Homo sapiens: one gene and its partners. The protein of the gene in region 2 purifies or fractionates together with the protein of the main gene of each other region. This does not show direct contact. Each region holds a gene or a part of one and is shown on either strand. Other genes may lie near its edges.

Region 1 (3,746 bases), on a different chromosome or scaffold from region 2:
CACAGCCTCATATACGTTGACATATAAAATATTATATTAGACATATAAAATTTCTCAGCTTTTCTAGCATGCTGATGTCTGAAATGGTGTAAATGGGAGAGGTGGCAGTTCTTTCATGCTGCTTTGACTTCTGGTTATTTTTGTGTAGCAGCTTTCATTGATGGGGTCCATTCTTGGCCTTGCCTAATCATTTTTCTTGGATGATATAGAGTGTTACAAAAGAATTATTATCTTAATGAATCAGGAATGTTCTCTCTATTTGTTTTCTGACATAGGTAAAGTGGGAAGGATTAGAACCTTCAAGGTGAAATGTCAAACTAGAAATTTCCTTTTATAATCTGCTTGTGTTCCCCTTGGTTTTAGGAGCTGGGAATCCCAAGTGCAAAATTGCAATTGTTTTGGGAAGAACTCAAAATACTTCTCTCTCCAGGTAATTAAACAATTCTGATTGAGAAACCTGTGTAGGAATGAGCCAGTCTTCCTCCTATCTAGGTAATTTACTTAAAATTCACTGTTTGGACTCACAAATCATAATGTAAGATATGAGAGTAAATGTCATATATTTGTATTTCACAAGTATTTTCTAACAGGTGTTTTTGGAAAACATTATAGGGAGTATTGCTGAACATTCTTCGCTGTGGAATTTTCAGTATTAGAAAGTGTTGCTAAATTATCAAAGCTGTTTGGATTAAATTATCAGACAAATTTTTTCAGACCTGTGTAATGAAGTGATTAGATGTTTAGATCAAAGGCAATAATCTTGAAATGTTTAATTATATATATAAGTTCCCAGTTACCATTGTTGAGCAGTGAGAAGCTTCAATCAAACAACTCATTTATTTTCAAATCATTGTTTCTGTTCCAGATCACAGCCTGCATCAGACTATGTTGGTGTACGTCTTTTACACAGTTCCCATTCCAGTCATCACTGCTTACATGACTACATGAAAACATCAAAAAGACAATTGTGATTCTGCTTATTATCTGTTTTATTTTTCTTCTTAGCAAACTTTTTCTAATACAATTTTTCTTTTGACTAGACACAAACAGCACAGCATGATTCTTGTTCCCATGAACACACCTGGAGTAAAAATAATAAGGCCTTTGTCAGTTTTTGGCTACACAGGTAGGTATCCAATAAATATGACCATGCATTAGCAAGCAGGAAGGCTAGAATATGCAGTAACATTGAAGGCAATAGCATTTTAATGCATAAGATAGATTCTTAGATATTCCTTTGTCTGTGACAACTGTCTTAATATAAATGCTGGTGGAGTTCAGAGTAGAGCCAATAAAAAGAAATAGTATAGCATTTATGTAATTTATAATTATATAAATTATAGAATTTATAGAATATAAATTCTGCCTTTTTGGGAAAGGGCAGATTGTATTTAAGGAAGAGCAACACTACCAGTCTTTTCTCTGTCATTCATAAAAATGGATTAATGCACAGATAATCCACAATAAAATTATTTTTATCTCCAATTTTAGCCCTCTTAATCAATCAACTTACAAGAACTGTTAAAAAGCAATGAGTTTTTGACTTATTTGAGTGCAAAATTTTCCTTCCTCTGCCCTTGGGTGGGACTTCTAAGAAGCAAAGATCCATTTGTTTCCTGCCACCTACTGTGGCACGTGTTCATTGTGTACAATAAATATTTGCTAAGATCACCCTCTCAGCAAGTATTTGCTTAGCCACCATGCCCAGCTAATTTTTGTATTTTTAGTAGAGACGGGCTTTCACCATGTTGGCCAGGCTGGTCTCGAACTCCTGACCTCAGGTAATCCACCCTCCTCGGCCTCCCAAAGTGCTGGGATTATAGGTATGAGCCACCGGGCCCAGCCCCTGGCTTTCTTTTTATCATTGAATATGACTAATGAATATGTTCAAGTGGCAGATATAAGACTTGCAGTTTTATAGAATCACTTATCAGTTAAGATGCAGCTGTAGAGTATACCCACAGGGTAAGCATAGGTGGCAAGATGGGATGAGCAAGCTTGCTGGAGAAAATTGCATGTAGGAAATTGTTGGGTTGCAGCGAAACGGCCGCAAAGATACCAAAAATGCGTTTATAATATAGTTGAGCTGCAAATAATTTCCATTGCAGAGGCTACATTTGATTATTCAGTATGAAAACTTTACTAGCACCTCTCCAACTCCCTGTGTCCAGGGCCAAAAGAAACAGTGTGGAGAAGGCTGATTATTGTCTCCTCTGACAGGAAAAGGGTGTAGAGTTAGCATGAGATTATCTCTAAAACTTGGCAGGGAGAAGGGGTGATGCAAAGATAAAATGTGAACGTGTTCCTGGCCTCAGTGTTTCAAATGCCAGTATTTTCAAGAGACGAACACACAGTGGAACAAGTCTAGACTGGGAGTAAACCTACCTGAAGGTCTAGTTTCTGTATCATCACTAATGCCAAGCCTGCTCTTTCCCCTCAAGCAGGCCCCTGTCATCTTTAGGCGTTGGTTTCCACAATGATAAAATAAGAAACATGGATTACATTACTCATTTTTAATTTTTGAAACATTGAAACTTTTTTCCATGCAAATTGTTTGGAACCCCATATGTAAAATATTTCAAAGAAGCAGCAATAATAAAACAAATAAAATACTCTGGCTGGATCTATGGAGCCTGGTCTTCCTTTTTCCTAGCTCTCTGAAATTGTACTTCAGAGAATGAATTAGAAAACATCTGGATCAAAGGGTTTCTCTTCTTGAACAGTTGATGAGTTTTCTGGGCTGCTGGGTCCTGGGGTTCAGGGCTGAGGCTTACCTCAGAATGTTCATGCCATATGGATCTTTGAAATCCTATTTTCTTCAAGTAATTATATTTCAGCAGATTAAGAATATGTGACTCTTTTTTAGTCAACTCCTTTTGCTCTAAATTTTATTTTCTATTTTATAGATAATTTTCATGGAGGACATTTTGAGATCCATTTTAATCAAGTGCGAGTTCCTGCCACAAATCTAATACTAGGTGAGTTGAATTTGGAAATGATTCTTCAGTATTGTACATTAATATTTCAGCTCTAAATCTGGAAAAGATAAGTCTTTCCAGATTTAGACCTGAAGTCTACCTTGATTTAGATATTAGGTTCGTGCAAAAGTTATTGCGGTTTTTGAACTGCAATTACTTTTGCACCAAGGTAATTGCAGTTTTTGGCAAAAGCCGCAATTACTTTTGCACCAACCTAATACTTTCCCTTCTTGTTTACTCCATTTGTCAAGGGAAAGTTTTCTGTTTGGCGGATTTTCTTACATGGAATGGTGAGGTTTTATTTAAGTGTTGGATGTGGTTTTCTATATCACATCAATTGAAAAGATAATATGAAAATTATATAATTCAGAGCAATACACTTTCTCCTAGAACATGATCTGTAGGCCTCTATTTGTTTTAAGAAAACCTCAGTACTTTATGAATTCAAGTATTAGATATAAGTTAGAAGCATAAATAACTTTGAACACTGTATGCCATCCTCTTGCTTATTAGAATACTATATCCCTTTCAAAGAACATCTAGAATACCACCTCTTCCAGGAATGTTTTTGTGTTCATCCCATCCATTCACCAGGCCCCTGATACCTGCCAGGCCCTGAGGTTATAATGATGAACAGAAAATCTCTTCTTCCTTTGCCTTTGTTTCTCTCTGTATCTCTTACCCTTACCCACTCTTCTGGATTCTAAACTCCTAGTACAGGGACTATGTGTTATTCCAACTTTGTATCTATTGCAGCATTAATAAAAT
Region 2 (3,746 bases):
CTGGTCACGTGATACGGGGCTGCTCCTGGCAGGCTGGGTGTATCTTACACCTTTATTTTTTGTGCCTGCTTAACTTATCAGTAACACACATTTCCTCACCAGAGTCTCAAGGCAAACCACCTCTTCTTTCTTTTTTCATGAGACGGTCTCACTCTGCTACCCAGCCTGCAGTGCAGTGGTGCAGTCTCGGCTCCCTGCAGCTGTACCTTCCAGGGCTCAGGCGATCCTCCTACCTCAGAAGCTGGGACCACAGGCACCATCACCGCGCCTGGCTAATTTTTGTATTTTTTGTACGGATAGATTCTGCCGTGTTGGCCGGGTTGGTCTCAAACTCTTGGACTTAAGTCATCCGCCTACTGCAGTCTCCCAAAGTGCTGGGATTATAGGCGTGAGCCACTGCGCCTAGTCTTAGCCTCTTTCTTTTTTTAATTTTTAATTTTTAATTGTTTAAGAGTGAGGGCCTCACTGTTGCCCAGGCTGGAGTGCAGTGGTGCGATCTCAGCTCACCTGTAGCCTCCACATCCTGGGCTCAATCTATCCTCCTTGGAGGACAGAAAAATAAAGGTGTAAGATACGTTCCTGCCAGGAACGGCCCATATCATGTGACCAGCCCCCATGGGGGCGGCCTCCTGAGTGACTGGGACCACCAGTGTGTGCCACCATGCCCAGCTGATTCAAAAACATATATTTTGTAGACACAAGGTCTCCCCATGTTGCCTAGGTAGGTCTCAAACTCTTGGATTTCAGAGGGTTCAAGTGACCCGCTCGGCCTCCCCCCGTCCTGGGGTTGCAGGCGCGAGTGACCCGCCTGCCTTGGCCTCTCCCCATCCTGGGGTTGCAGGCATGAGCCCCTGTGCCTGGCCTTGACCTTCTAGAATGACGCGGAGACTTTTGAGCCTGTTGGCTCTGCCTGCTCTTTTCCCAGTTCACGTACTCTTATCTGGAGTTTGGTCCTGTCCGTTCTAAATCCTGCAAATTGGACATTAAAAAAACTAAAAGTAAGAGGATCTCCCTGTGTTGCCCAGGCTGGTCTCAAAGTCCTGGGCTAAAGGGATCTGCCTGCCGCAGCCTCCCAGCATGCCGGGATTACAGGCACAAGCCCCAGTGCCCGGCCAAATTGGACGTTATTACTTCCTTTCCAAAAGAGTGGTTTACATTTTCCTCCCCACACACGGTTCGTGCCTCCACCCCGGTCCCGCGTTCCCTGCTGTCCTGACTGCGTCTTTAAGCTTCATCCCGTTGGTCCGGCCTGTTGGCGATGTGCTTGGGGCAGGAGGCCTTGCCCGTGCCCGCCCCCCAACTCTGATTGTGTCTGTCTTTCCTTGGTGCCACTTTATTTGGGTCTTTTCTGCCCAGGACATGGCCCACCTGGACCTAGAGCTCTGTGACATTTCTGTGAAGCCTCCGTCTACCTTTGGGACTCAGCAGAGGTGTGTTTAGAATTCACTCTGCGTTTTGGGGGTCCCCATGCATGCTGAGGTGCTGTTCCCTGCCCACCCGTGTCCGATCCGTCTTGGCCTCCCCGACCTCAGGGTGCCTAGGACCCCCCGACCTCTTTGGGTATTTGGTTTCTGGCTCAGGAAGAGCAGCTGCCGGGTCCTGGAGGAGGGGCCTGGGAAGCGCTGGCAGGCGTCACTCCTGCGACCTCCCACCCCTCCCTGCATGGCTCCTGCGAGGGTCACCGCGTGAGTCCGGGGGCTGCTGTCCTCGCGCCTCAGACCTGATTCTGGGGACCGCGGTGAAGGCGTGGCAGGCGGGCATCACTCCCTTCCCCCGCCTCCATCGCTGCCTCTCTCTGGGTCTGCGTCCTCTTCTCACAGGGACAGCAGTCGTTGACTCTCCCTGATCCAGGAGGGTCTCTCCAGATCCTTCCCTAACAGCAGAGGCCCGGCTCGTGGGGAGGGACTGGGACTCAAGGCTTCTTCACCAGCCTGAGGTTGGTGCTGGGGCTCGGCGGCGGCTGTGAGAATCCTGTGCTGGAGAAAGCGTCTCTCGGCCGGCCTGTCTGGGGCGTCTGTGCCTCTCCTGGATGGGTCTCAGTTTGGCCCCGTCCATCCATCCCAGGAGCTGCGGTGGAGCAGACAGGGAGGGGTGCCCCAGGAACCACAGCCCCGTCACTCCTGTCTTCCTTTAAGTGAACCGGTCGTGTAGATGGAGGTTGTTCAGAAAGGGATAAGATGGGACGGCAGCTGGGCCTCATCCCGCAGTGAGCGCGACGCAGAGGCTGCCGGGCTTGTGGCAGGGGCTTCGGCCAGGGCAGAGTCGGGCCTCACGTGCAGGGGGCTGAGTGTGGGCCTCAACACTGGACTTGGCCACTGACTGCAGTGAGCCCCAAGATGGGGCAGGAGGTGGTGTTTCTGTCCTGGAGACCCAGGGTGGCTTGGGTCCTTGGGATGTGTGGGGACCTCGGGGTGAGGGCCCGTTGGGGCCGGGTGGGCACGGCAGGAGAGCGGGGGCCACACACCCAGAGGCAGTGCCGTGTCCCGGCTGGGAGGGTTCCTGGGAAGCTCTGCTCAGCCCCAGTCTCAGTCATTTCTAGAAACTGTGTTTTCCTCCCTGTGACGTCACACGTGAAGGAAACGGAAAAGGGCAGTGAGTCCTTCGCCCCGCGGCGCCGTGCGCACGTCAGCCTTCAGGGTGATTCCGCTCCTCCAGAGGGGCAGGCGCGGGTGTGGGGGGTGGGGCCCAGGCCCATCCTGAGGGGTCCCAGGCATGAGGGGCTCTGAGCTGTGTCCTGGGGTGGTCTGGGCCATGGGGAGGTTCTGGATCATGTCTTGAGAGGTCTGGGCTGTGTGGGGGGTCCAGGCCATGTCCTGGGGGTCTGGGCTGTGTCTGTGGGGAGTCAGGGCCATCCATGTATTGGGGGTCTGGGGCAGGGGGGGGTCCAGGCTGTCTTGGGGAGTCCGGGCTGTGTGGAGGGGTCCAAGCTATGCCTTTGGGGATCAGGCCTGTGGGAGGCTCTGGGTTATGTCTTGGCGGGGGTCCAGGCTGTGTCTTAGGGGCTGGGCCATGTTCTGGGGACGTGTGAATCCTGGAGGGTGGGGCCCCGGTCTCGCGGGTGGCTGTGTCCCTCGAGTTCAGGCAGCACCTCTCGGAACTTTCTGGATTTGCGTGCTGGCGTCTGTCGGCCTCGATACCCACAGGCTGCGCCCCTCTCAGCACAGGAAGTCCTGGAGAACCTGAAGGACCGCTGGTACCAGGCGGACAGCCCCCCTGCAGACCTGCTGCTGACGGAGGAGGAGTTCCTGTCGTTCCTCCACCCCGAGCACAGCCGGGGAATGCTCAGGTTCATGGTGAAGGAGATCGTCCGGGACCTGGGTGAGGCTGGGTCCAGCCTGGCCGGCACGCCAGGACCCAGGACCGACTGGCAGGGGCCGGGCATCGTCGGGAGGTCGGGGCAGGTCCTGCGGGAGCCCCAGCCTGGGTGTGGGCTGACCCATTCCCGTCTCGCAGACCAGGACGGTGACAAGCAGCTCTCTGTGCCCGAGTTCATCTCCCTGCCCGTGGGCACCGTGGAGAACCAGCAGGGCCAGGACATTGACGACAACTGGGTGAAAGACAGAAAAAAGGAGTTTGAGGAGCTCATTGACTCCAACCACGACGGCATCGTGACCGCCGAGGAGCTGGAGGTGAGCCCTGGCGCAGCCGTGTCCCGGAGCCGGCCCTGCGAGGTGCTGTGGCGGGAGGGGCTGGTGGATCTGGGCCTGAGGCAGGAAGCTGTGCTGGTGTCTGGCCTGAGACTCCAT
Region 3 (3,746 bases), on a different chromosome or scaffold from region 2:
ACTGCCTCGGGATTTCCAGAAATTTGCAGTTTCCAAAGCTTTGGGAATAGGTGCAATGTGCAAAAGCACCTTCAACACCGCAATTTTCTATTTGGACGATGAAGAAGCGGTTGAAAAAAAATCATTTTTGGATACAAACTGTCGAATGGAAAACGGAATAAAAGTAGGATCATCGCAGCCAGGAATGGAGAGTGGGGGTGCTGTGAGGAGTTCAAGGCCGGGAGCTGGGGGACATGGACTGGAGACAAGACGGTGATGAGAAGAGTTGGGTTTCAAGGTTGAAAAACGCTGATGGAGGTCAATTCATTCATTTTGCAGGTGAGAGGTCAGAAACAGGCACAGAGACTTGACCAAAGCCAGGATCTCCAACACAGTGCTCCCCCCACAAGACCCTGCTTGGCCATTCTCTAGCGGCAGGGAAGAGGCGATTGCAGGGCTGCGGGATCAGAAGATCCCGGTCCTGTTCTGTAGGCCAGTGCAAGCCTACAGTTCAATGTTTGCAGGAGGCATGACTGTGGGCTGTCACTGCATGTCCTGGGGCAAGCCAGGCCAAAGCCACCTTTCCTAAAGGCCAGGATATTCTGGAAGTGAAGGGGGTGCTTATCTTTCTGTGGCCCTCTTTATATTCCAGCTATCCGGGTTCATCTCCTGAATGAGCTATAAACTAAACATAAGCTGGGGTTCCCCAGCCCTTCTGGCAGATCCCAGATAAAGATCCCTACAGTTGGGAAAGGGGAGAAATGAATGCCAATCAAAAGCACCCTGCACAAAGTCCCTGCCAGGGCCACAAGAGCCAGGCCTGTCAGATGTGAATAACTTTCCTGTAGCCCAGGTCACCTCCGGCTGCTCCTGGACACCTTAAGATTCTGAAGACTCCAACATCAAAAAACAAACCGAGTTGGGACTCTCTGGCTGGAAAGTGTCCCCACGGGCTCCCACCTCAGACAAAGAGGCAGAGAAGCCATCCCTTAAAGACCCCTGGCCTCCAGGGTGCCCAGGAAAGAAAGGAGGGCTCGTGGCTGTCGTGCCTCTCCAGGGCTGAGCTCAGAGCAACCGGGGGACAGATTTCCTGTATGTCGTTTTACCCATTTAAGTCCAAGGATGCAGCTCTGCGGAGGTGGCGACAGTCCTGTACATGAGGGTGCATGCACACTCCCTCCTGAAACACAGTTCCGGCCCCACAACCGGCCCTGAGGTCCCTTCCTTGGATCCAGGGAATCCCAGAATCCTGCTAGTCCTGTCTTAAGGGGAGGGTGGTGAAGTTTCCAAGACGAGGACACTGGCACAGAGGGTGTTGGGACTCGTCCCAGGTCACCCAGCTGTTAAGTGTGAAGTCAGGAGGGACACGAATCAAGAGGGGAGGGTGGGGGGACGGAATCTCCAGGGGCTGCATCTCAACATCTATCTGCACGGGGCCACTCTAACCCCTTCCTTCTCTTCCCTCCTCTCCGGGCCCTCCCTCCCTAAGCCTACCCTCAGTTCTTACCGTGACTTCTACTCCGTTTACTTCCCTTCCAGCTCCCATTTCCCCGCTTCCCAATAGCCGGCTGCCGCATCAGTTAGTTCAGAACCCCCCGCATTTACTGAGCGCCCACTGGGGGCCAGGCGCCGCCCTCTTCTCAGACACCCTTCCTTCAATCGCGCGGGCAGACGTCCCCAGATCGGTCTCGCACCCCTTCCCCTCAACCGCACCCCGGCTGTCCCGCCCCTGGCCTTGCCCACTCCCCCAGCCTGGGCCTCTCGTTCCCGCCTCCGTGCCTCCCCACAACGCCGTTTCCTGCGACCCCCCAATTACCACTTAAGCCACGTCCTCTTCAGAGAAGCTGCTCAAAGCCACAAGACTCACCCCCCCCACGCCCTCGAACTCCCTCACCAGCTCCATCCCCATCCACTTTCTCCTTCACCGTCTCGCTTCCACCTCATCCCCAGCAATCTCTCCAAGACCCCCAGGCTCGTTCCCGCCCCCTCGACCCCTGCCGTCGCGTCCCCCATCAGCCCTCAGCTCCGTCCCTCTTCTGCGCAGCCCCCAAAGGCAGGCTTCGAGCTCGAGTCGCCAACCCGAGGCTGCCTGGTACTCACCTGGCCTCGGCCGCCGCGCGCCGCCGGTCCCGGGCCGGGTCCCCGGCCGGACGACCGCCTGCCAGCCCGCCGCTGCTCGAGCCGCTCCGCCCCGCCGCGCCCGCCGCTCCCCCGCGCGCTCCCGCTTCCGGGTTCCGGAGAGGCGGGGACGGGGGCGTGACGCCAGCGCTCCTAGGGGCGGGGCATCGCGAAAAGCCCCGCCCCTACTGTCCGACAGATCAGGTCCCACCCACCGCCCCTACCCACTACCGCCGATGGTGGGCGAGACCAAGTGCGAGGGGAGGACAGGCGAAGCGCGCGTCTGGGGCCGCGCTCTCCACACTTAGCCGGCGCTGCCTCACGCCTCGCAGCCACCCCTCCTGCGTCTCCACAAATGGTCCGACCCGCAAGCAAGGGGGCGGGTCCGGCTTTGAAAAGCCGGCGGGTCGGGCCTTGAGGTGGAAGGCGGGAAAATGGCGGATTCCTCGGGGCGAGGCGCTGGGTGAGTTGGGGCTTCCGCAGGTCTGGATTTGTAGACGCCATAGGGCTGGAGAGGATGGGCAGCGGAGGTGGGGAGTTAGGACCCTCGGGGTGAGTTCGGGTTCGACCCCGCCAGGAACTGCGCGGGCCCCTGAAGACCCCGATGGCGTGCTGCCTCTGCGCATGCTCCGGAGCGCTGACACCCGACCGGCCCTGAGTTCCGCGTCCTCGGCTGGGACGCTGGGCGACCTCCGGCAAGCGGCCTGACCGCCCAGTGCCTCGCTTTCCTCCGCTACGAAATGGGGCCGATGACGCAGCTCAACCTCGTAGGCGTCGCGTGAGGCTGAAACGCGCTTAGATCGGCGCCTGGGTCTTTACTGTGATGTCGCTCTTGGAATTATCGTTATGCAGTGAACAAGTGTTGGGCGACCAAAGTGTCCCCTTTAATCCTCCCACGCGCTTTATTCTGTGCTCCCAGTTTACTGAGGAGATGATGGAGACCCAGGGAGGGGAAGTGACTTGCCTAGGGTAACACACCATGAACAAGAAAGAAGTTGAATACTGACCGAGAGCTAGGCATGAATGATCATGAGGCTATATTTGTCTAGTTTTGTTAATTCTGCCAGTGTTGATTGTGCCAGGTGCAAACTGAAGTGAAATTGGCCAGCAAGAGGAATCACTCCACCGCCCCTTGCCGTAACCGATAGATTGACAGTAGCACCTCCCAGGTACAGGTGCAGTAGCTGAGGCTCGCACAGGTTGTAGGGACCCCCCTCAGGTCGCAGCAGGTTCACCCAGGAGCCCATTCGGTTTGAGGCCACAGCCCTAGCACAGTCCCCAGAGGGAGTCTGTGCTCTTGTCTCTTTCTGGCTGTGAGACTGCCCCGGGGGTGACCTATGTAAAACCTGTGCGTCTTTGTTTTGCAGCGACGAAAAAGCAGGTGTGAACAGTTAGGAAGCTGTCGGGTTAGGAGGAGCCTACGGGCGAGCGCAGCTGCTGGCACCTGGCGAACATTTGCTAAGTTGCCTCTCCCCACGGTGGCCTGGAAGTGTCCCCAACATTGTCTGGGTCTCACTTTGGGGTCCTGGGAGCCTGCTTCAGAGGAGGTGGCCGCAGGGACCAGTGGAGCCGCCTTTGGTGATGGGAGCAGGAGTTACAGTGCCCTGGCCTTGGCCCTGCCCCTCCACTTGCCCATCCACTTGCCCCTC

What was found.
Region 1: the proteins of SDF4 (region 2) and ACAD11 purify together in Homo sapiens (affinity purification with mass spectrometry; 4 studies listed by BioGRID and IntAct, with this or other methods). This does not show direct contact.
Region 3: the proteins of SDF4 (region 2) and MYO9B purify together in Homo sapiens (affinity purification with mass spectrometry; 3 studies listed by BioGRID and IntAct, with this or other methods). This does not show direct contact.

The regions. Positions count from the first base shown.
Region 1 is NC_000003.12:132,576,176-132,579,921, reverse strand, and holds part of ACAD11 (acyl-CoA dehydrogenase family member 11), read left to right. Parts: intron 1-363; coding exon 364-430; exon of another isoform or gene 431-1,040; coding exon 1,041-1,126; intron 1,127-2,906; coding exon 2,907-2,978; intron 2,979-3,746. UniProt on the Homo sapiens protein: Acyl-CoA dehydrogenase, that exhibits maximal activity towards saturated C22-CoA.
Region 2 is NC_000001.11:1,218,341-1,222,086, reverse strand, and holds part of SDF4 (45 kDa calcium-binding protein isoform 2 precursor), read left to right. Parts: intron 1-1,356; coding exon of another isoform or gene 1,357-1,388; exon of another isoform or gene 1,389-3,153; intron 3,154-3,159; coding exon 3,160-3,318; intron 3,319-3,453; coding exon 3,454-3,629; intron 3,630-3,746. UniProt on the Homo sapiens protein: May regulate calcium-dependent activities in the endoplasmic reticulum lumen or post-ER compartment. Isoform 5 may be involved in the exocytosis of zymogens by pancreatic acini.
Region 3 is NC_000019.10:17,074,208-17,077,953, reverse strand, and holds the start of MYO9B (unconventional myosin-IXb), read right to left. Parts: upstream 2,178-3,746; 5' UTR 2,080-2,177; intron 1-2,079. Other genes in the region: HAUS8 (HAUS augmin-like complex subunit 8), read left to right, coding at 2,532-2,560. UniProt on the Homo sapiens protein: Myosins are actin-based motor molecules with ATPase activity. Unconventional myosins serve in intracellular movements. Binds actin with high affinity both in the absence and presence of ATP and its mechanochemical activity is inhibited by calcium ions.